Linked DNA regions of Homo sapiens: regions 1 and 3 are each linked to region 2. The links come from fine-mapping of genetic effects on gene expression. A gene starts in region 2. Each other region holds a variant in brackets. All regions are shown on one strand. Distances are from middle to middle.

The links.
Region 1: its variant is fine-mapped to the expression of MPC2 in whole blood (INTERVAL, PIP above 0.99).
Region 3: its variant is fine-mapped to the expression of MPC2 in fibroblasts (GTEx, PIP above 0.99).

The regions. Positions count from the first base shown.
Region 1 is chr1:167,860,237-167,868,417 of GRCh38, reverse strand. ADCY10 (adenylate cyclase 10) reads left to right here. Exons shown (of 33, transcript NM_018417.6): 15 at 7,355-7,547. It also overlaps a transcript of DCAF6 not described here. Among named protein-coding and RNA genes, the nearest start is that of ADCY10, 50 kb to the left of the region's middle. RefSeq lists enhancers at 6,043-6,560, 6,561-7,077. The variant G/A (reference allele first, on the strand shown) is at 3,634.
Region 2 is chr1:167,933,868-167,942,048 of GRCh38, reverse strand. It overlaps MPC2 (mitochondrial pyruvate carrier 2), which reads left to right and starts at 4,977. Exons shown (of 6, transcript NM_001143674.4): 1 at 4,977-5,110; 2 at 6,151-6,316. The coding sequence starts at 6,208. DCAF6 (DDB1 and CUL4 associated factor 6) reads right to left here and starts at 5,366. Exons shown (of 22, transcript NM_001198956.2): 1 at 5,041-5,366. The coding sequence starts at 5,137. RefSeq lists silencers at 4,961-5,200, 5,231-5,300, 5,901-6,070 and enhancers at 5,481-5,790, 6,241-6,350.
Region 3 is chr1:167,788,616-167,796,796 of GRCh38, reverse strand. It overlaps MPZL1 (myelin protein zero like 1), which reads right to left. Exons shown (of 6, transcript NM_003953.6): 6 at 4,878-8,181. Among named protein-coding and RNA genes, the nearest start is that of MPZL1, 71 kb to the right of the region's middle. RefSeq lists a silencer at 4,066-4,214. The variant C/G (reference allele first, on the strand shown) is at 4,584.

The DNA of each region.
Region 1 (8,181 bases), 74 kb after region 2:
GTCATCCTACAGGATGAGTGAATTCTTTCCTTTTTTCAGCTATGCAATATTGTCTAATAATTGAGACTTTTAGAACCTAGAAATGATCAGGGTGATTCTTTTGGGCCGGGAATTCATCAGGAACTGGGTCTGTAGGCACTAATTCTCGGGCTTCTTATGCCATTGATCTCTTATTACAGTTTCTCCACAAACGTAACATGAGGTGACATTTAGAGACTGGGCTACATGCTCGGCTAATTGCAAAAACAAATTTCTGGTTTTTCCTGGAGTCTCTGGTACTGGCACATTTAGTTAATCATAGAAAGTCTGAAATACTGGTTCCGGAGAGAGTTTACGAACCTCCTCTTTTACTAAGGTATTTACTCTAGGATCTAGTCCTTTTTTATCGACGCCCAGAGATACGTGTACTTCTTTTTTTCTACCTTGGGTTTAAGGGATTTGTAATTACTAATTTCAAGGGGTTGCAGCTTCCACTCGTACAGGAGGGGCTGCCTTCTCCTTTTTGGAGCTAAACAGGGTCTTTTTCATCCTTTTTCTAAGTAGCCTAGATGACACAAGACCAGTAATTACACACATTTGCACATGAGCTTAATTCGTGGCAGATATACTTATTTCCTGCTGTGTAACTTTTTTTTTTTTCAGTTTAAAGAACCGCATCTTATTCTATGCCGATTGCTATTGATAGTGGCACAAGCATTAAATTTTAGTGTTACATGCTTGGGGATCCCTCTTTCTTCTGTCTTAGCTATTACTTTACTTGTGTCACCTAGAAAAGGACCAGTCCTTAATTTATTTTAAAAAACTGTGATCATTGGAGGCTTAAAATGGGTCATAACACACATCAGGTTGGTTATTTCCTAGGCTACATACCTTGGATAGAATAGCATTATACAAACAAGTTTCTTTTAGAGTCCTCGTACACTTATAATAACCATGAAATAATAGGACTGTAGCAATCTTTTGTCCTACCTCAGTGACTTGATGTATATACTGGGAACAGTTCTCAGTCTGAGGAAGGTCAGTTGAAGTCCTTACTGTACAAGTCCAAATTTTAAGGAAAATGAGTCCCGTGATGAGTTTTCTCATGCTTCGGCCGTGCGTGGACCAGTCAGCTTCCGGGTGTGACTGGAGCAGGGCTTTTTCTGAGTCACTTTGCAGAGGTTGGTGAAGCTGCTCCCATCCACGTACAGCTCCCAGTTTACTGATGTTTAAGGATGGTTTTGGAGGTTGGGCCCACTAGAATAAACTGAGTCCAACACTTCTACACAGTTATGTTTAACTGGGCTCTCTGATACCAGGAGCAAGGTGGCGGGGTTTAGGGTGTTGCAAACTTCAATGGTTATGTGGGGATTTTCACAGAGCAAGCTTTGGTATCTAGTTAGTCTAGCATTCATTAGCTAATGATGTCCTTTGGTACTGATTAAAGTCACCACAGCATGGGGGGGACTTTATGTTTAGGTTTTGCCTAAGAGTTAGCTTATCTGCTTCTTGTGCTAACAGGGCCGTTGCTGCCAGGGCCCTTAGATATGGGGGCCAGCCTTTGGAAACCCCATCTAGTTGTTTTGAGAGATAGGCCACTGGCCTTGGCCAGAGCCCTACAGTCTGGGTTAAAACTCCAACTGCCATTTTTTTTTTTTGAAGATAACCATTCTTTTTTTTTTTTTTTTAAGTGAACTTTCTTTATATCTGTGGACTAGACTGTCTAAGGCCACAAGATTAGAAGTTACTATAATACATGTTACACTGTTAACTTTTAGCAAACTTTACTTTTGTTGAAAACCTTGTAAGTTTGGGATTTCAATTATCCTTTGCTATGAGTAAGACCTTGTTTAGTCTAAATTAACTTAGAATTGGTATAGATGGCCCTTTTTTTTTTTTTTTTTTTTTGGCACATAGAGTGTGCACTTTCGTCAGGTCAGGTAGCCCCAGGGCTGGGGCCGACCTGAGTTTTTCTTTCAACTCATGAAAAGCTTGTTGCTGTTGTTTGTAATAGATATAATTTATCTAATTTACATTTTTATTAACATCACTCACTAAAATATTGACTTAAATTTTGTAGCTATTTGATTTCAAGCTTTAAATTGATCTGGTATTCCTCGTGGGACTCCAATTGCGTCTAAATGGACGTGAGAGTCGAAAGACCTATAAGGGGGCTTCTCTCGCTTTACGATGTCTTATTTTTCCTCCCTCTTGTTGATGAAATGCCAGGGTGAAAGGGATAGCCAACTGGACTAAAGTATAAGTGCCACTCCAGTTATTCGGCAGAGTGCCCAGTAAAGGTCCACCACAATACCACCACACATCCGCTTGGGGATGAACAAGGGCTGACTGATTGATAAGCTCTTGAAAATTCTTAAGCTCATTGCATCACTTCAGGTCTCCAAGGAATCCTAAGTTTCCTCTCTGTGGTGAGAGACATGAAGTGAACTTAGTGTTGGGAGACGGAGGCTGGATGGCCCTCGGGGGCTGACCCACAGGGATAGCAGAGAGAGTTTGGCATGACTTATTACTCCAGGCTGTAGAATCCTGGAAAAGAGCTACCATGCAGCCCACGCCTGGTGGACTGGAGGACCACTTTAGTGGAAGGGGGACAATGAGGGCCTCTGGCCTGCCATGTGCACAAGCATAACAACTGCTTTTGTTTAATGTGCAGATGGAATATTTGATCCATTTCAACCAGGCATTTGCATCTTGGTATGCTGTCTTAATTGCCAAAGTTTGTTTTAAGTCTTTAACTTCTATGATCCTCTAGTAAAATGAATGTTTCCTTTAGGACCTATTTTTATTAGTTTTTAGACCAAAGAAAGCTAAACACCATTTTATATTTAATAATACTTCTTGTATGATTTTTATACCAGATAAGCTAAATTTTACCTTTATATTAGTGTGTTATTAATGTTAAACTTAATTTTAATAAAACCTCATAGACATATTTATCCAATTTTTCATGTTTGACCATAAGGTAAGTTTTTACAGACTCTTTTTAACCTTTTATAATTTTTGTTAAAGAGCAGGTTGGTGCTTCAAGAAAAACCTGTTGCATTTTTACTTTAATGTCCAGTTCACAGAAAAACTGGATGATACCTTTTTATCTTTAGCTAATTAGTTTACACACAGAATTTTTTTTTACAATTAACATTTTAAAACTTGCTTAAACTTTCAAAACAATAATTTTTTTAACCTTTTAATGTAGGTAAAAATCCACATTCTTATGCCTCCTTCTAATCTTTTTACCAAAAGTATATTTTACTTTTCTTATGCACCTTGCACATAAACTGTTTCTTCAATAGTACTCAGGAGGCCTTATTACTTTCAAATTATACAATATTTTTTGCATAAATTTTTTATAACATCGTTTTCTATGACTTTCGCAGATAATTCTTTGACATGTCTCAACTTTCTGACTTATTACAAATATTTCTTTCTTTAAACAACAGTTAATTTATTTCAAGACAAGAATTTACCATATAACACTCTTTTTACATAAATTTTGCCTTCCCACAGCTCTTTTTTTTTTTTTTTCCTGTTAGCAAAGCAGCTGCTGCTACAGATTGAATGCATCTGGGCCATCCGTGGGTTACTGGGTTAAGGATTTTTGATAGGAAGGCCTCAGTGCTTTCGGGATACGCCCTT[G/A]TTTACACTAACAACAAAGTGGTATTAGAGTGTTACAGGGTTACGGAGAATACCTTTAATTATCAATTTTAGGTTTTAAATTTACCTTGGCTTTTAAAGGGAATAGGGTACACTATTTTTTTCTTAACTACTTGGATATTTCTCTCTATTTTTCTTTCTCTCTTTGACTTTCTGTCTCTCTCTCTCCCTCTCTCTCTCTTTGACTTTCCTTTTGCCTCTGTTTCTTCCTCTCTTTCTGCCTCTCTTAACTACTGTGGGGGCGAAGGGGGTCTAAAACCAGCTGTAATTGTCTACGTACAGAAACTGGTCTGTGTGCCTTGGCTTACAGGTTACCTTGTGCCATACATTTGAAACAAGGGACCTGTCTAGGCTTCCTTCTGATGGCCAACCCACCTCTAATGTTGGCCAGTCTATTTTACACAAAGTTCTAAGTTTTTCTAGTGTCATAGTAACACCGTAATCTCCCTTAAATCCTTTCTTGAAATTTTTCAACATAGTTTCTAGTAGGGTGGGCTTATTTGTGCCTGACCCATGTTTCTTCGAGACAAAACACCACTCTCACACCACATGCACACCACAAAACAAAGAACGGGTAAAAAGGGCACGCACACACTTTTGCAGTTTACACTAAACCAAAATCAAAACCAAAATCAGAGTATTCAGAAATCCAAGCCAGGTCAAAACCAAAACCAAAGTATCAAGCAATCTAAGTCAAGTCAAAAACAAAAACCAAAGTGCCGGAACAGGCACACCGTGGGTGATCAGATCAGGCCATGCTTCCACTCAAATGGAGTGGGAATGGAGTGGGCAAGTTCCCAAGACCAGTCCTGTCAAGTAATTCAAACCAAGTCAAAACCAAAACCAAGTGCTGATAAAGGCACGCCGTGGGTGATCAGGCCATGCTTCCACTCAAATGGAGTGGGCAAGTTCCAAAGACTAGTCTTACCAAGTTTTAGTTGTCCGGACTCCAAGTGCCAATTCCTTCCCGGTGTTCAGCCACTCTGTTGATCCTCCACGGGGGCCTGCCACACACTGCTCTGGCGAGGTGTCCCACCGGGGCAAATGCCTACCCAGGAGAGCTCTCAGGATCCGCGTCACTCTGGCTGGTTGGAGTCCCCAGCAGGGATGTTCCACAGGGCAGGCTAAAGCCGCCTAAGGAGCTGCCTCGACCATCTGTTAATCACCTTGCTTCCCGGTCAGGGAACCAAGAAATGTAGCAGGATGAGCCGCAGACAAAACCCCTCAGACACCGAGATAGTGAAGGGAGTGGCTTTAATCAGCTGGGAGAATCGGCAGGCTAGCGTCTCAAAATCCGAGCTCGTCTGATGCTCAACTTCTGTCCCTTTTAAGGGCTCACAACTCTAAGGGGGTCCGCATGAGAGGGTCGTGATCGATTGAGTAAGCCAGGGGGTACGTGACAGGGGCTGTGAGCACCGGTGGTCACAGTGAAACAGAACAGAACGAGAGATTTCACAATGTCCTTCCATACAATGCCCTTCCATACAATGTCTGGAATCTATAGATAACAACAGTTGCTAGGTCAGGGGTCGAATTTTAACTACCGAGCTTAGGTCAGGCAGGCCCAGGCCTGGTTTCGGGTCTGGTTCCTAGGCGCCGGGCTATCTGCCTTTAATTTCACTTTTCTTTCCTTTTCTGAGTATAAAACAATATGAGAGGGTCTGTCTCTTCCCTCAACAGGGAATCACTAGTTCAAACCATTTAGTCCTAAGACTGGAGATAGAGAATAAGAGGTCTTTGGATTTTTCCCTGGAAGACAGATCTAATATACTTGTCTCATGTTGTTTATTTATTTTCATATAAGGAATATTATGAGGGCTATCTTTGGGACAATCCATTCTACTTCCTCATGGAAGTAGATAGTATGGTATTCAATAACAGTGGTGATGACCAGGACAATAATGATGGTGACTCATATCCCTTCCCCACCTAACCTAAACAGTGTGAGGGGAAAATGCTTGTTAATCTTATAATATTCTTAGCTGTATCTCTATCCCACATTAAAGTTAGGCCTGAGAAAGGCCAGTTTTAAAATATCTTTATCATTGCTGAAGGGATAATTCACAACAGTCAGAAGACATTTGTTTATTCATGTATTCAATCATTAATTGAATTCCTACTATGTTCAGGAACTACTAAGTGCTGTATTCACTAGCCGGGGCCTCTGTAAAAAAGTACTACAAATGGATGGCTTACAACAGAAATTTGTCTCATAGTTCTCAGGGGTAGGAGTCTGAGATCAAGGCATCTTTTCTTCTCTGGACCATGAGGAAGAATCTGTTTCATGCCCACCTGCTAGCTTCTGGTGGTTGCTGGCCATCTTTGGTGTTCCAAAGATGGCTTGTAGAAGCGTCACCCTAATCTCTGCCTTCATGTCACATGGCATTCTCCCTGTGTGTTGTTTGTGTCCAAATTTCTCCTTTTTATAAGGGCATCAGTTTTATTGGATTAGAGGCCTACCCTACTCTAGCATGATCTCATCTTAACTAATTGTATCTGCAACGACTCTCTTTTCAAATAAGGTCACACTTTGAGGCCCTAGAGGCTAAGAATTTAACATATGAATTGTGGGGACATGTGTCAACAAGTGCCAAAGCCCTGAATATCAATAAAGTCTGCTCTCTGCCCTCAAGGAGCTCTCACAGAAGAGGAGGAGAGAGATAATGTGTTAGTCGTTTTCACGCTGCTATAAAGAACTACCTGAGACTGGGTAATTTATAAAGAAAAGAGGTTTCATTGACTCACAGTTCCACATGGCTAGGGAGGCCTCAGGAAAATTATAATCATGACAGAAGGCAAAGGGGAAGCAAGGCATGTCTTACATGGTGGCAGGAGAGAGCGAGCAAGGGAGGAAGTGCCAAACTTTTAAACCATCAAATCTCATGAGAACTCCCTCACTATCATGAGAACAGCATGGGGGGAACCGCCCTCATGATCCAATCACTTCCCAACAGGTCTCTCCCCTGACACTCGGGGGTTGCAATACGGGATGAGATTTGGGTGAGGACACAGAGCCAAACCATATCAGATAGCATTAAAAGTTGAATATAGTGAGGGCAACGATAGAGTCATGCAATAGAGAATTGTGGAAGTTCAGAGAAGAAAGGGTATGTAGTCAACCTTAGGACATTGATGACAGTTTCCAGGAGGCTACACCTGAGCTGAGACTTGAGATGAACCTCAAATGAGGGGCAATGAGAAGCCATAGCACTCTGGGCTGAGGAGACAGCATAAGCAAAGGCATGGAGAGGAGAAATAGCTCTGGGTGTGCAGGGAACTCTCACCTGCTTGCTGTTGGTGAAGGGTAGATTGCTAGGCAGAGAGTGGCAAGAAAGGATAGAATGAGGCTTTGGAAAGTCTTGTGTGTCACATAAAGGAGGCCTGGGTTCATGCCGTTAGGCAATGGGAGCTCCCAGTCAGAGGGTCATGACCTGGATGGGGGTAGTGGCTTGCTATTGTGGTAGTATAGGGTGGCAGTAGGACTAGAAAGGAGAGAATTAGCTAGGTTAAATTAATCAGGGCTTAGGAACAGGAGAAGAGGGAGTATATCAGAAGCAGCAATAAAGAACCATTGCGAGATAGCTTGGAAAATCTCCATCATTATAGCTGAATATGAGAAGACAGAGCTTTCCTTCAACCTCTATTATTTTCAAAAATATATATTTAAAAACTCTCTTCTGTTTCTTGATTTTCTCACAAACAGGATTATTGCCATTTCATTGAATAAGATCAGCTTCCATCAAACTTTCTATACCATCCAGATGTTCATGGCCAATGTCCTAGGCCTAGACACTTGTAAACATTATAAAGAACGACAGACCAACCTTCGAAATAAAGTCATGACACTGTTGGATGAAAAGTTCTACTGTCTTCTTAATGACATTTTCCATGTTCAGGTAACTAGCTAGTATTATACTTCTGCACAAATAGCCATGGGCAGGCACAGCAACTCCTCTCTGGTGCATTGTGACTTAGCATCTCTTTGGTCTGTATATCTGCAGTATCCAGATGGTGAGTAAATGGCTCCCAATCCTCTCTGGATGTGCATCAACATTCTTGACATATTAGAGGTATCTTGAAATATCATACTCAAGAAAATCCAAATGGCCATCTGCTGACTAATTTTTTTCTTACCTTTCTATCATAGCTATACTAGCTACTCTGGGACACAAAGTCACTCTGTTCCTACAAGTGATGCCAGTGCAGACTGTGCCCTGTCTTTTCCTGAATTATCTAACACAGGGGTCCTCAACCCCTGGTACTAGTTCATGGCCTGTTAGAAACCAGACCACACAGCAGGAGGCAACCAGTGGGTGAGCAAGTGAAGCTTCATCTCTATTTATAGCCACTCCCCATTGCTCACATTACCACCTAAGCTCCTCCTCTTGTCAGATCAGCAGCAGCATTAGATTCTCATAGGAGCCTGAACCCTATTGTGAACTGTGCATGCAAGGGACCTAGGTTGCATGCTCCTTATGAGAATCTAATGCCTGATGATCTGTCACTGGCTTCCATCACCCTCAGATGGGA
Region 2 (8,181 bases):
TGATATATTTCTACACGCCTACCATGAAGGCTACAATTAGGAAGACTCACTACACCAAATGCTGATGAGAATGTGGAGCAATTGGAACTCTCATATACTGCTGGTGGGAATGCAGTATGGTAGAATTACTTTGGAAGACAGTCTGGAAGTTTTTTATAAAGTTAAACATACTTACCATACAAGTCAGCAATCCCACAATAGATATCTATTTAAAAGTGTTCGACCCTAGTTATTTTGTCCAAGATGTACATGAAGTTTCACTATTTACATTTTCCCTGTGGAGCCATCAGCAGTGTTTAAAAAAAAATTTTTTTAATCTCCTTCAAGTACTTGGGGAAGCCTGCCCACCTTAAACCTGAAGCAACATTAAATTACAAGAACTACACACCATCTAGAACAATTTTCCAAACCTCAAGCTGAGACTCATTAGTGCGTACTCTACCAGTTCAACACCAACAGTTGTAACAATATGAAAAAAAACAGAATGCATCCCATCTAGTAAGGTTTATATATACACCTAGAGAATCCTTTATTTTCGTTGTGTATATCACAGGTTGCCACATAAATGTACTTTTATCATGGATCATTTTTAAAACATTTTAAAAACACTGACCTAAAGCATACTTGTAACATAAGCTCCATGCTACCAGAAGCTTCTAAACCTTCTAAGCACTTATAACTTGATTCATCCTATTTTAGGAAGCAATGAAACCCACAGTAGAGCTATCATAGTGTCTATGGTTGTTATGATTACTTATATGCCTTTGGTGTCCTGCCTTAAGGAATTATCAGTATATCTTACGTTTGTCACAATTGACCGTCATTTTTCAATACTAAAATCATACATTTTTCAGCTTTCACTGAAATTTCAAGACTAAAGAAACAAAATACAAATATTTCACTAACTTTTCCCCAATGGCTAAAAAAAGAGGCAAAAGTCAGAAGTTACTAATCTTCATATAATAAATACACTGTAACTTGGCAACATATTATGAAGAACCTGGTAATCTAGAATGCAGATGTATTCAAGATGCACTAAAGAGTAATCGACACGCAAAATTATCCATTTCAGTACATACTGACTCTAATGATATTCAAAGGACACTGACTTCATAAACTCCTTACAAAAAGATGAGATTCAATCTCCACTAAAAAATTGTCACTGGCTGCCTAATCATAATTTACACATTTTATACATTATAATAAATAACTCCCTTGAGAAGTACCTTAAAATTACTTTTTTATCAATTACTATCTTTTAATTTAGAAGGGTTAGAAAGTTGTAGGAGTGTCTGTCCAAAAGGAAAGAAATATGAGTAGAAACAAGCAATGTATTGAAATAAGTTTATTTTATTAACAATGTTTATCTTTACAAAACCGTATATATATGGGATAATAAAATCTGTGTGGCTAATAAATCACTGATTTCCAAAAGCACTACTCTACACCTAGTATACAGTAATTTGAGAAACTATTACATTTAAACATTTAAACCTACAGGTATCTCTGACTTTGATAATTATTCTTTAAAAAAAAAAAAAATTCCAGGAGGCTGAGGTGGGAGGATGGCCTTGAGCCCAGGACGTGGAGGCTGCAGTGAGCCATGAGGGTGCCACTGCACACCAGCCTGGGAGACAGAGCAAAACCCTGCCTCACCCTGCCCCCCGCCTCCCACCAAAAAAAAGAATCCTACATTGAAATTTAGATAGGGCTCACAAAGATTAAAATCCCTGGCCTATCCTCTAAATCCATGCTAGTCTAAAACAACACTCTGTTGGCCCAGGTGAATCTTGTGGATTTGGGAGCTCTAAGTAAACATATCTTTTAATCATAAATAACATCTGGGAAATTATTCATCTTCATTCCCACAACATAATAGGAAGTTTTCTGAAGTATAATTTTCTTTGATGGGAAGAAAGGAGATAATTAATCAGTTTAAGTAAAATCAATTACAAAGCTTGAATATTAACATTGAAAGGGCACATGCTATGGTGAAATAACTGGAAATGTAAAGGCTACAAGAAAAATTTATCTATTTGTTCTATCCCAATTTTACTATTTAGCAGTAATTCACTGCTAAAAAATCTGTAGAAATACAAATAATGAAAATGTATCAGAAAAATACTTAAATCTACAACCCTGTAGATAGACAATCGTAATGTTTAAATATTGAAGTCTTTTAAAAAAGGAATCTATTTCCTTAGGAAAATCCTAACTTGGAATTTGACTTTTAAAAGGAAGGCTTTATAAGTGTACCATACTTTATTTATTTATTTATTTATTTATGACGCAGAGTTTCCCTCTGTCGCCCAGGCTGGAGTGCAGTGGCACAATCTTGGCTCACTGCAACCTCCACTTCCCAAGTTCAAGCTATTCTCCTGCCTCAGCCTCCCAAGGAGCTGAGACTACAGGCGTACGCCACCACTCCCGGCTAATTTTTGTATTTTTAGTAAAGACCAGGGTTTCACCATGTTGGCCAGGCCGGTCTCAAACTCCTGACCTCAAGTGATCACCCACCTTGGCCTCCCAAAGTGCTGGGATTCCAGGCGTAAGCCACCGCGCCCGGCCAAGAGTACTGTACTTTAAAAAGTCATTTTATCTAATAATAAAAATAAAATTAATAATAATGATAAAGTCATTTTATCGCCACACACAAAAAAAGATGGTAATTATGTGACATGATGGATATGTTAATTAACTTGATTGTATATGAAGTTATCAAGTCCTACACCTTAAATATAACAATTTTTAATTGTCAATTATACCCCAATAAAACTGGGAGGGAAAGTCATTTTTTAAAAAAAACCATCACTAATTCAAACATTACCAATGTGGATTTTGCTGCTTCCTGAATGCAAAGCCAGGATTAGCACTGTAGTATAGAAGAGCTGAATAACAGTGTAAAGGTCTACTAAGGGTAAAGGCCAATAAATTAGTTCTTTGCAAACATTTTCAAGTTTCGATACTTTCAAAAAGTATTTTCAAGTACTTAGAAAACCACTTTTAAAGGAAGTCATTCCAAAAATGTCCTATTTTAAGAGTATATATTATCATATCTAAAATATTATTTAAGATAAAGAACTCCCTGTATGTATACATACACATTTGAAAAACTGTAATTCAGGCTTTCTAATATAGTCAGTGAACCCTTCAATTCCCCTAGACCCAATACACAAATTCCATTTCCATTAGGGAGTTGGAGTAGGAGGGGGAAAAGCAGGTATATGGTTTTGTTATATTTTAATTAACTCGTTTGTAGATATAGCTGAAGTAACTGAACCAAAAGAAAACACTAAAATATAGAACTATATACAAGTACTTAAACTGTCCAACTGAGATAAAGGACCAAATTATAAATGTATCCATGCAAAACAATGTTAACGTTTGTTTTATTAAGCTAAAATTAAGTTCTTTCTCCGCAAATAAATTCTAAAAGAAATACTGCACACTTTTTTTGGTAAATAGTTTTAAAAACCAGACTCCAGCTATGTTCAATTTTAAAATGATTAATCACCACTCTAGGTACTTATCCTACAACAAATGCACAGAAGCTTGTAGAATGATGTTCATTAAAATGCTGTAAGGGCGAACGTCTACTTAAAGAAGAAAGGTTGAGTACCCTATGGTACTTCATAATGTTACCTACTATGTAATAATTTAAAAGACAGAATCAATCTATTTTTACTGCCATGGAAAGATCTCCAAAATGTGGAGAAGTGAAAACAATGTTTACAATATGACACCATGCACTCAGGTGTCTCTCTCATACACACACAAACACACACACACCCCAGCATTTGTACATGTACATATGTACTTGTAAGAATGCAAACAAAAAGGTCTGGAAGAATATTCAGAAAACAGAAAATATTATTTCTAAGGGTGGCGGAGTGAAATTGAATGGGAGGGATCAAAGGGATTTTTGCTTCATTTTTATTGAGTTTTTATAAACAAAATGTATTCGTATTTTACTTGAGACACTAAAAAGAATTAAAAAATTGCATGCTAACTTTTCTTAAATAATTTACAAACCAGAACTGTTGGTTGTAATGAGATTTCATTTTCTTCTCTTTACTTGAAATCAAAAACAAATGAGAGCAACAAACACTTTTTAACTAGCAAGTGGCAAAACTGGAAAGAAAAAAATTTTATGATGTTGTTTGCCGTATCTCCAAATAGAAAGAAAGAGTAATGAAGAGTATACAGGAAGAAACAAAAAAGACCTTTACTAAGTACGTCCATTTTTAAGAAACCAAACTTTTTAGTTGACTCGGGCGTGACCTAGAATCCTCAAAAAAAAAATGTTATGCAAAACGAAAAAAGTGGAATACTGTTCCCCCAAGTACTGAAGGTTGTTTTTAGAAAGCTTAACTACGAAACTGTAAATGCCAAGTGTGTTTTCCAGGGGTGGGAAGAGGAACGTGAAACCCTACACCACCTTTAAGCGGTCAAAACGAACTGAAGAGCAGAGTGGAACTGGGAGAGCGCGCGGGGGTGGGGAGAGCTCAGCTATCACTTTTAGGTTTTGGCTCAGCGCCGCAAAAACAGTTTACACGGATTCTGTCTGGAGCGTGAAGTCCCTGAGGGTGGTCAACGCGTCGCAGCCGACACCTAAACCCTCTGGAGATTGAAGGAGAGGGTGGGCAACAACTTAGGTTCTTCGGCTGAGCGGGGAAAGCGCGCTGGAAAAGAGCAAAAGAGCTAACTTTTGCTCTAAACGCGGCAGCTCCTGGAGGTTCCGCAAGTCTCCCGAGTCCCAACCCATCAGCGACCCCAACACCTTTACAAGCCAGTACCTTCTGCCCACGGCCCGGCCCTCCGAGAAAAACCCAGCAAGGGCGGCGGCTGGCAGCATGCACAGGGGGCTTGACTGGGGGAGGCACCGGCACGGAATTCGGCAACCAAGGCCCCACCCAACACCCCAGAGTCTCCGGGCGCCCCCACCGAGACGCCGTCCCACCTCCAACAGACCCGGCAGCGTGCCCCCTCCCCCACTCTAGGCGGCGACCTCAGCGCCTCCGCCCCGGGGCCCCCGCTCACCCAGGTAGCGACTCCGCAGCCGGGACGGGTCCTCCAGCCCGAGGGACCTTTTCCTCACGTCCCACAACAGGTGTGGGTAGGAGCCACCCCGAGACATGGCTCTGCCTGAGCCGGGTGGGAGGGGAGACCACCGCGTGGGGGAGGGGAGGAGGGGGAGGGGACACCCGTTTCAACACCCGAGCCGCACCGGCACCATCCGCGCGCCGGGCCTCCAGGGCGCAGCGTTAGATGGCGGTGGCAGCAGCGGCGCCTGGGCCCCTGAAGCCCGGCCGCACCCGGGCCGGAGCTCGCCTCATACTCTCCTTCTTAGACTAACCAGAACATCCAAAGATCAGCAACAGTCTCCTCCCTCAGCCCCCCTCCAACAGGAGGAGGCGGAGGCGGAGGCGATGGCGACTCCTCCCTCTCCTCGTCCTGGATACCCTCCCCGCCAACCCTTTCTCGCGAGATGACGACCACCCTGGGGACTGAGGCTGGTGTGTGCTGCGGCTGCCCTCACCCTGGAAGAATGCATTCGGGCCACTCTAACCAGATCCTTAAGTCGCTAGGGATAAAAGACGAGTAGAGAGAGAAGCTACTCAATTCTGTAGTCTCTCGCTCACGAGTCTCCAGTGAAAAGAAGCAAGAGAATTGTGCGGCATCATCTTTAGGCACTGAAGGCCCAAAAACCCATTTTAACTACGGGCCTGCTTAATCAAAGTGAAAGGGCAGTAGAACCAGCGCAGCTTCACTTTCCCTTCTCCAACATGGCCTCGAGGGCATGGGGAGAAGGAGGAGGTTTCCGCTCGACCCCGCCCGCGCCTCGGGGCGGGCCAATCATGGCGGGCAGCTCGGCCTGCGCAAGCGCGCTGCCAGCAGGGCGCAGCGCAGACTTGGTGAGGTGATTATTTTGGCACCTGTTGCCATGGCTCCTCCCTCTCTCCTGCCGGGGGCCGGAGGCGGACCGGGGGCTGGCAGTCGGCAGCCTCCGCCCCCTCAACCTTCGCGGGGCGCGGGCCGCAGCTTTTCGGTTCACAGCGGGCAGGGAAAGCCGCGGGAAGGGTACTCCAGGCGAGAGGCGGACGCGAGTCGTCGTGGCAGGAAAAGTGACTAGCTCCCCTTCGTTGTCAGCCAGGGACGAGAACACAGCCACGCTCCCACCCGGCTGCCAACGATCCCTCGGCGGCGATGTCGGCCGCCGGTGCCCGAGGCCTGCGGGCCACCTACCACCGGCTCCTCGATAAAGTGGAGCTGATGCTGCCCGAGAAATTGAGGCCGTTGTACAACCATCCAGCAGGTAATGGACCCTGAATGGCTCCTTATCGAGACCTTCCTTCTCGCTTCCTCTAAAATGGACCTTTTAGAGGCCCTCTGACAACTGCCTCTAGAGGCATCCACAGCCCCAATCCCTTCCCTTCAAGTGAAGCCGTCTACTCTCCTAGCCTGTGCATTTCACCCTCTCTCCTGCAACATCTCTTCCTAAGCCAACGTATCTCAAGTCAGCTCCCTTCCCCACCTATGTGACATCCGCTCCCTTACGCACGACTCCAACCCAAACCTGATCTCCAGATTTGAGCCTTCTCAACTTCTGCGGCCACCAAACTGTCTGGGGCCACCATGAAACACTCATTCTCTTTCTCTTTTCGAATTGTGGCATATTAACCCACTCTAGGCAGAGCTGGATGGGTGGTTTGTCGCACTGTAGGGTTTGGAGTAAAGGTCACTTTCTTCAGCTGCTGCTGGCAGAGGCCTGCAGACTGAGCCCTCCCCCAAACTGCATGCTTTACTTCATCCAGGCTTGAGTCAGTGTCATTTCTCATCCCATAGGTCCAGTGTGTTTTTTTAAGTCTATCCTTATTTATGAAATTGTTGAACAAGCTCTACCCAGAGCTTTTTGTGTGGACAGACCTGGATATCATTCTCTTCTACCACTTATAGTTGTGACCTTGAGCAAAAGCCTAGATCTCTGTTTGTGTAATACGCGGTCTATGAGAATGACAGATAACATATGTGCTTGACTCTTTGTAAATGCTCAGTAAACGTTACATCTCTCTTTGCCTACTGGAAAACTGTGTTCTTGTGGTTGAAAAAAAAAACTGTAAGAAACTGAAAGATTCCAATCCCTTTATTAAAGATCTAGAATTCTGTTACCTCTTCTATAAAGTGAGTTGTAATAATACTTATTTGCTAGGGGCTAACATCAGATATATTCTGAGGTCTGTTTCAAGCCTAAGACTTGGCAAACTAGAAAATGTGTTGTAAATTGAAAGACTGAAGTGCTACCCGAAAAGTGGCTTTTATTCTCCTACATAGTTAAAATCTGTATTCTGTAGTTGGTATCATTAGGAAAGTTGTCTAGTTCCCCCATTATCTGATTATGAACCAGCTCTCTGGAGTCTGAACTGGTTACTAAATCTGATTTCCAGTTTGATAATGGAATGAATTGAACATCTGGATTATACTCTAACCCTTAATATTATTTACTGCAACATTGAACCCATTATAAAACTGATCATTAAGGACAGTTTGTTACTGATTTAAAAAGTTTTTGTTTATTTGCCTTTTAGTTCTTTTAACATTCAATTTTTTTGGAATTATGCTGTGTTTTGTGGCAAAGATTTTCGGGAAGGAGGGTTGAGCTATGCTTTTTGTAATAATCTGGGCTTTACAGAGTCAACTGAATGTGAAGTCAACCCTGACCTTCATAAGCTTTGTGTTTTAGCTGTAGGATAAGGGCATGACAGAGTAAGAGTAATTTTAAACTACTTAAAATAATACAAAATTGGAGGGTAGTCTTACCTTGATCCTTTCCAAGCCTTTAGTTTTTAGCCACCTGTAATTACTGCTTAAAATACTACTCAGCTTTCAGAATGAAGAGGGATTACCTTTCACTTGCAGGATGTGCATTTCACCTGAAAATCCTTGGATTCGTTCAGTTATTTTAACCCCCTTTTTCAGTGTAGTAAAAGGAGCTAGGCTTTGAAGGGAAATAGACCTACGTTTCAGTCTTGGCTGTGTGACCTTGACCCTAAATTCCTGCCTTAGTTATCTCATCTATAAAATGGGAGTAATTGTAATCATTTCAGGATTGTTGTGAAAATCAGATGATCTAATGTCTCTAAAACATGTAGCACAGCGTTTGCACTTAGACTCTCAATAACT
Region 3 (8,181 bases), 150 kb after region 2:
AACCTCCACCTCCTGGGTTCAAGTGATTCTCCCCTTCTCCCCGCTCAGCCTCCCGAGTAGCTGGGACTACAGGAGCATGCCACCGCCCCCGGCTAATTTTTTGTATTTTTAGTAGAGATGGGGTTTCACCATGTTGACCAGGCTGGTCTTTAACTCCTGACCTCAAGTGATCCGCCTGCCTCGGCCTCCCAAATTGTTGGGATTACAGGCATGAGCCACTGCACCCGGCCAAATGTTCCACATTCCTATGAATCTATTGTACCTTCTAAGAGATTCCCTACAAAATATATTTAAAAGTTCTTTCTTTTAAAAGAAACTTTGTAATTTAAAAAATAATTCTATTCAAAGGCAGAGAAAGAACCAACAATGTACTCTAGTATTGAAATTCAGTTTCCTTGGAGTCCTTATCACAGAATGAGAAACCTCAGGCCTTAAGATGGTTTTTAGCTGTTCTATCCCCCGCTCCCATAGCAGAGCAGTGACTCAGGTATAAATACCTGAAATCATTTAATGCCCTGAAGGGCAAAGTAACCAGAATTTTGTCAGCCCCACAGCACGGAGGGCAAGGCTTGAAAGCAAATCTGCACCACATCCTCTTCACAGAGGTAGGGAGATTTTAAAAGACAAACAAACAAACAAACCCAGCCCTTCCTTATATTCTGCAACACTAAAGGCCAGCTCCACAAAGGCCACAGTGAAGAAATGGATGGACAAACAAATCCAAAAGCCTGAGCCAAGAAGGGACAATAGCTTCACATCCTGTTTGCAGGAGGAAATGGAAGCTGGAAGCAGCAGTTCCCTACGGACCCCTTTGGGCTTTACGTCTATGTTTTCTTCTTTGCAAACACAGCCAGGTCTCCCGTGGATTCTAGAGCTCCCTCCTGCCTTCCACTCCCAGTTGTTTTTCTAACAACCCAAGACTCAGTCAAACTTGAGAGCAGCCAGTGTGCTCTGTGGCCAGCTCCTGATGGCTTTAGGAAGGATGTGAGGAGGGCAGGGGAGCTTGTGAGCCACTTTCATCGCTCTCAGATATTAGATCCCATTTCCAAGGCCAAGGACGTGACTGATTCTGTGTTGCTTCTCTGAGCCTGCAAATTATTTGGCTTTTCTTCCTTAATAGCTCATGAAGGCAAATGACAATTACAGCACTACTTGTAATAGCCAATAACAAAACAACTGGAAACAACCTATCCAGAAGATCAGAAATGGTTTAAAATGCAAAGGCTGGCTGCGGTGGCTTATGCCTGTAATCCCAGCACTTTGGGAGACCGAGGTGGGCGGATCACCTTAAGTTGGGAGTTTGAGACCAGCCTGACCAACATGGAGAAACCCTGTCTCTACTAAAAATACCAAATTAGCAGGGCATGGTGACGCATGCCTGTAATCCCAGCTTGGGAGGCTGAGGCAGGAGAATCGCTTGAACTTGGGAGGTGGAGGTTGTGGTGAGCTGAGATCACGCCATTGCACTCCAGCCTGGGCAACAAGAGTGAAACTCTGTTTAAAATAGAAAGAAAAAAAGAAATGGTTTAAAATATTCCGGCGCATCTACAAAAGACAAAGTCCTGCAGGTGCTATTATCTAATGACCTAGTTCTTCATGCTGAAACTTCTCTGCCATAATGCTAAGGGAAGAAAGCAAACTGCAGAGCACCATGATCCCATTTTGGGTTTAAAAATAGGCAAAAAAAAAAAAAAAAAAAAAACTTTACCAGAACTATGTTTGGATCCTGACTGGAAGAAACCACTTGTAAAATGCCATTTTTTAAGACAAGGGAAACTTGAATATTAACTGGGTAATAATATATAAAACCAAGGATTTTGTTTGTAAAAAATGTGTTTTAGGACAGGTTTTTGTTAAATGTGACAAGATATTGTGATTATGTAAGAAAATGTCCACATTTTTAAAAGATGCACAGTGAAGAATGTAGGGGTGCACTTACATGATTTTGGGATTTGTTTTAAAATAATTCAGAAAAGAGGAAAAAAGAAAAAAGGGGCTGGATAAAATAAGTATTGAAGATAATAAGTGTATGCAGGTTGATTTTACTATTCTCTCTTCTTTTGTATATGTTTACATTTTTCTTTTTTTGCCATCTCACCAATTTAATAAAAAGCAGAAAATTCAATCAATCATCAGTCAATCTTTTCATTTCCAAAAGGATCAAATAACCTATGGGGCATTAATAGGATCTATTCTTTTAATGTCTTCAAGGAACAACCAGAACGTTTTAAGCAATTTTCAGTATGATGATACAAATAATTGAAACAATTATCTTTCAAGTTTCCTGTCTAACTGGGTATTTCAAACAAAAATGCTAATATTGCTGAAGTGAGTTGATACATGCTCTGAAATCCCCACATCACTTGACACCTCTGGGAAATTTAAGTGGCCTTCATATTTCAAGCTCATTAATACCAGTGGAAATCATACCTGCAATAAGAGAGATGAACTTTCAGCACATAGGAAGCTGCCTTTCCATCACTGATGAACAGGGTGTAACAGAAAGGTGACTCCAGGCTGTATGTGAGTCGTAATTCCTGTCATGTAGTTTTGTTACACTCAGCCAGTCATATACTTTTATTTTCACCTCTTTTGGGCAACAATAGGAATTTGTGAAATGGTTTTTGTGGAGTCAAGAGTAAGTCTGTGGTTGGCATTATGAATCTCTGATGCCATGGCCAGAATCTCTGCCTACCTACTTTCTCTATCTAAATCAGGACACATCTATTATTGTATCACTGGAAAAAACTGAGACAGATCATAGAGCTGAACATAATCCAAGATACACATAAAGCTATGAGTAAAGTTAATGTACAAAGTGTATATGGAGTGTACAATCTGTGTACAGTGGTAGAAAGTGACCCACAAATTTGGCTAGGACCTAGAGAATAGCAAAAGCAAAGAGACAAATACAATCAGTGACAAGTCAGTGCACATGACTAGTTTGAAACAAAATATTCATAAGAAACAGTTTTCCTGGTGTATTACTTGTTTTCACGCTGCTATAAAAGATACCTGGGACTGAAGGCCAGGTGTGGTGGCTCACGCCTGTAATCCCAGCACTTTGGGAGGCCAAGGCGGGCAGATCACCTGAGGTCAGGAGTTCGAGACCAGCCTGGCCAACATGGTGAAACCCTATCTCCGCTACAATACAAAAAAAAATTAGCCGGGAATGGTGGCGCATGCCTGTAATCCCAGCTACCCAGGAGGCTGAGGCAGGGGAATCGCTTGAACCCAGGAGGTGGAGGTTGCAGTGAGCCGAGATCGTGCTACTACACTCCAGCCTGGGCGACAGAGTGAGACTCCATCTCAAAAAACAAACAAACAAACAAAAAACAAACAAAAACAAAACCCCAAGACTGGGTAATTTATGAAGAAAAGAGGTTTAATTGGCTCACCGTTCTGCAGGTTACACAGGAAGCATAGCGTCTTTGGCTTCTGGTGAGGCCCCAGAAAGCTTCCAAATATGGCGGAAGGCAAAGGGGTAGTGAGGCTTCTCATGAGGCGTCTCACGTGGCGGGAGGAGGAGCGAGAGAGCAGAGTGGGAGGGTGCTGCATACTTTTAAACAAACAGGTCCCATGAGAACTCACAATCACGAGAACAGTACCAAGGAGGACGGTGCTAAACCATTCATTAGAAATCTACCCACTGTGATCCAATCACCTCCCACCAGGCCTCACCTCCAATGCTGGGTATCACAATTCGACAGATTTAGGCTGCGACACAGATCTCAACCATATCATCTGGTATTAAATCCAGAGAGATATTTGTGCTGTGGGTCTTTATAACATTGAAAAATGTATGACAGGGAATAACGTTCTCAAAGCCATGCTGGCAGTAAAGTACAATAAGTAGCTAGTTTCCTAGGACTCTTTTTTATGACATACTTCAATGTAGGCTGATAGAATTATGTCAAAGGGGCTGGGCCTAGTGGCTCACACCGGTAATCCCAGCATTTTGGGAGACTGAGGCGGGCATCTCTACTAAAAATACAAAAAATTAGCCGGGTGTGGTGGCGCGTGCCTGTAATGCCAGCTACTGGGGAGGCTGAGGTGGGAGAATCGCTGGAACCTAGGAGGTGGAGGTTGCAGTGAGGCAAGATCATGCCACTGCACTCCAGCCTGGATGACAGAGCAAGACTGTCTCAAAAAAAAATTTTTTTCAAATTATATCAAAGGGTAATTTCATTAAAGTAATTCTACAAAAAAACAAAATATATTGAAATTGTTCATACAATATCTTGACTATGCAAGAGGAAAGTGCAGGGGAGAACCCGCCATAAAAGCAGATGGTTGGCTCCTACCACCAGCTCTACCAATACCACAGATGCCACTTTCCTCCCCGTGGCTGCTCCCTCGCCTTTCCTGCACAGTGGGAGGATGAAGTCAGTGGTTCCCCAGTCCAGTTAGCACAGGAACTACCCAGAGGGGTCAGAAGGGAGCCAACTGGGGTGAGAGAGTATCTGAGTTTCCTCTAAACACTGCTCAACTCAGCTCCCTCAGGGGTGGAAGCTGCTCTCATAAATAAAAAGTCCATCTTTGGTTGGCAAGGCCCCTATGTAGCTTGGAAACCAGAGCCCCAG[C/G]AGGTGGATGCCCTCCGACACTTAGTGCTGACTTGGAAGGAATTGCAGAGATGACAAAAATGTGATTCCATCACTCACTGCTGCCCTTGTGTGGTGAAGGAAGCATCCCTTTTCTTTTTGTCACATCACGCAAGATGGATGCTGTTCACATGTGAGAATTACTCCCAGGGGAGTTCCTGCCAGCTGTAACTCATCTTCTCCCACTCAAGAACGCATTAGGTTTTGCAAGCCCAAAGTTATGCAAGGCAGGGGCTCATTGTGAATCCATGGTAATTTATAAAATTACTAAGTCACTGCGAAGCCTCAATGTTTTATTAGTAACACATTATTTGTAACATAGTTCTCAACAAATTAAGTCACCACATTGTCTTCCAGACTGAGGTTAAAGCTCTCAGACATCTGTGCCTACCACCTAGACTACACTACCCTCTCAAGTTCCTAAGGGACTCTCTAACCAGCTCCTAAGGGACTGGGAGAAAACTGCAACTGCATTTCAGCACATTTATTTGAGTAAGGAAGCAGTTTGGTACTTCCTTTTGGTGTGAGAGGCCACAGGGCATAGTGGTTAGGAACAAGGCTGTGGATCAAACAGCGGCCCCAGGCCCAGCCCCTCTTCTCTGTTCCTTTATTAGCTAAGTGGCCCTGGGTAAGCCATATAATCTTTCAAACAATGGGATTAAGATTAGTACAATTACTGTTAACTCACAGAAATAATAGAGAAAGAAATGCAAAGTGCCTGGCTCACACCAAGTATTTGGTAACTACTAGTTACTTCCATTCATGTCACCTGTCACCTCCACCCTGTGGCAAGCTCCTTGAGGAGCTTTGTCTTGTTTTGTTTCCTTATGCTTAGCACAGTGCTTGGCACAGGATTGTTCTCAGTGTAGGTTGCTGAATGGATGAATGCTTCCACCTACTCATCCATCCACGTAACATGTATTGAGCAGCTAAGTGCCAGGTGCTGTTCCCTTTACTGCAGACGGAGCAGTGAACAAAACAGCAAGGTTCTGGTCTCTTGTTAACTATGTTCTAATGCGGGAGAACAGACAAGTGTGTACTGGGAAAGAGGGAGAGAAATAGAGTAACTAGAGCAGAACTGAGGGGGCCAGGAAGGCTGAGGCGGTGGGGTGGGGGGCTTGCTCTTTTATATATCACAGAAGGTCTCCCTGAGGAGGTAACATTTGAGCAGAGGCTTAAAGGAAGTCAGAGAGCAAACCACAGGAATATTGGCAGAAGGCATGCTTCAGGCCCAGGGAACAGCATGTGCAAAGGCCCAGAAGCAGGCACACGGACGGCATTTTTGAAGAAAAGAAGGCAGGTGTAGCTGGAATGATATGAGTGAAAGGCATATCTCTTTTTCTATTCTGGTCAAAATGAGCACACAACACAATTCAGAAATTGAAAAAGATGTATTAAAATATTCACAAAAATACAACTGAAGATCAAAAAATAATAATGAGCTTGATGGTTTTTCCCTAGCTGATATATTTCCATTGAAAAACTAGAGATAGTTTGAAATTTCAATCTCTAAGTAATGCCTTTTGAGTGCTCCCATACAGAATTAGCGCATAATTTTAAGACGACCCTGTTTGCCAGGACGAAGACATGGAGAGGGCAGATCTGCCCTTTAGGCAACCTTAGTTCGTTATCTGCAACCAGGAAAGGAGTGCTGAGGCACAGGGAAAAGGGGAGCCAAAAGGGCTGCAGGGGTGGGTGTGCAGGGCTTGGGAAGAGGTCCTGCCCTGAGAGGCTCATCTCAGTGTGAGCAGCTTCCTTCAGGGAAACCTGTCCTGGCAGAGCACCATGCTGGCAGCTGCCCTTGCCTGGGGGGAAGGTTGGTGAGAACTGGTGAGGATTCTCTGCCAGAATGCCAGGGCACTGACAGAGTTTGAGGTGTCTGGTTGGGCAGGAGGCCAAGAAGTCGGGCTGGGGAAGGGAGTGGTAAGGGAGGAACAGGCCTCCAGGTGTCATTCGAGTGAGTGGCCCCCACAGCACCAGCTTCACCAACACATGGTCCCGGCACCGCAAGAAGAAGTGAAGGCTCTTGCTCTCAGGGAGCTCCGAAATGTTTCATTTATTCACAGGAACTGTTGAGAAAGCAGTGAAAAAACAATGCCCCTTTTCTCTGTAAAAAACGACTGTAAGGAAACATGACACAGGCCTGTCTACAATGTGTGTCCTCTGTACCTCAAGCACAGCCCTGGTCAGCTATGTGGTTTTCATGGTGGCAAAGGCTCACCAGGAGTCTCAGCTTGAAGGATGGTGACAATCTCAACACCCTTCCCCTCCAAACATAAGAGGCCTTCCAAAGGCTCCTATAGTTTTCAAAATAGATGCCCAAAAAGTTTTAGGATGCAAGGCAGAGTTGACCACTTTGTGGAAATGTCTCAGGGCCAGCACTGTGTGTCACTCTCTTGGGCTGGGCCTATGAACATGGAAGGCAGCAGGGCAGGCGTTTTTTTCTCCATTCCACACAGAACACAGAGCAGACGCTGCCCAGCTTCAGACATGTGTGGTGACCAAACCTGATCCCTGTTGACTCACACAGATGTGGCATGTAAGGTGGAGCGTTACAAGAATAACAAAAATAGCTCCTCAAAAAACAAAAGGCTTCATGTATGCAACAGCATTAGTTTTGAAGCTCATATGCCCTTTATCTTACCACCTTGTGCACACCTCAAAATCTCAATCCTGTTTTATTCCCTTTGTGAATTCTGTTGGAACTCAGCCTTCAAACATCCCCAGAAGATGACAAGATGAGAAGAAAAAGCAGCAGCTCATAATGGACTCCAAACTACAGGGAGAAAAAGTAACATTGCCCCTCACTCCCACTCACCCCAAACACGTTCTGCAGACCATCTAGACAGTAATTCTTTCCATAACTGTGGGCTTTCGAACAATTTTAAAAGGGGGGAAATTTAAAAAAAAATTCAGAAAATGGGAGAAATGACAACATAAGTGTTGAATGATCTTCACCACACTTTCCATTCCCAGTAAAAAGTAAAAACTCATAGATTTTAAGTGCGGTGGGGAGTAGTGAATAGGAGAAAACAAGTTTTAGGGAAGGACAGCCAAACTGTCTAATCTAGGCTCTCATTAACCTCAACAGTCTTTGAGGCACCATGAAGCTGTTATAAAGCCATGACTGATGCTGCCTCTTGCTGGAAGCATGACTGACGCTTTATAAAGAAGGTGATTCTTGCCAGCTGCAGTGGTGCAACTATAGTTCGTTCCAGCTACTCGGGAGGCTGAGGAGGGAGAATCACTTGAGCCCAAGAGTTCAAGGCTAGTCTGGGCAACATAGTGAGACTCTACCTCAAAAAAAAAAAAAAAAGCGAAAGAAGGTGATTCTCTAGAGAGCGAGCTCTGGGAGATTGGAGAGCGGCAACATAATGATACCATTTCTGCCTACTTAGAAGGAAAGAAACTCCTCTCCTTTAGCTGTATGGTGACTGTTATTTCAAGCAGAAAGGACATCAGCAAAGAATAAAACCGATACTTTTTACTCTCCACGTTACAAAAGTTCTCAAGCAAAGCTTGGATTTTCTACTTAATCAGTATTGATCCAACTGTGTCCAGAATGAAGTGACCTTCGGCA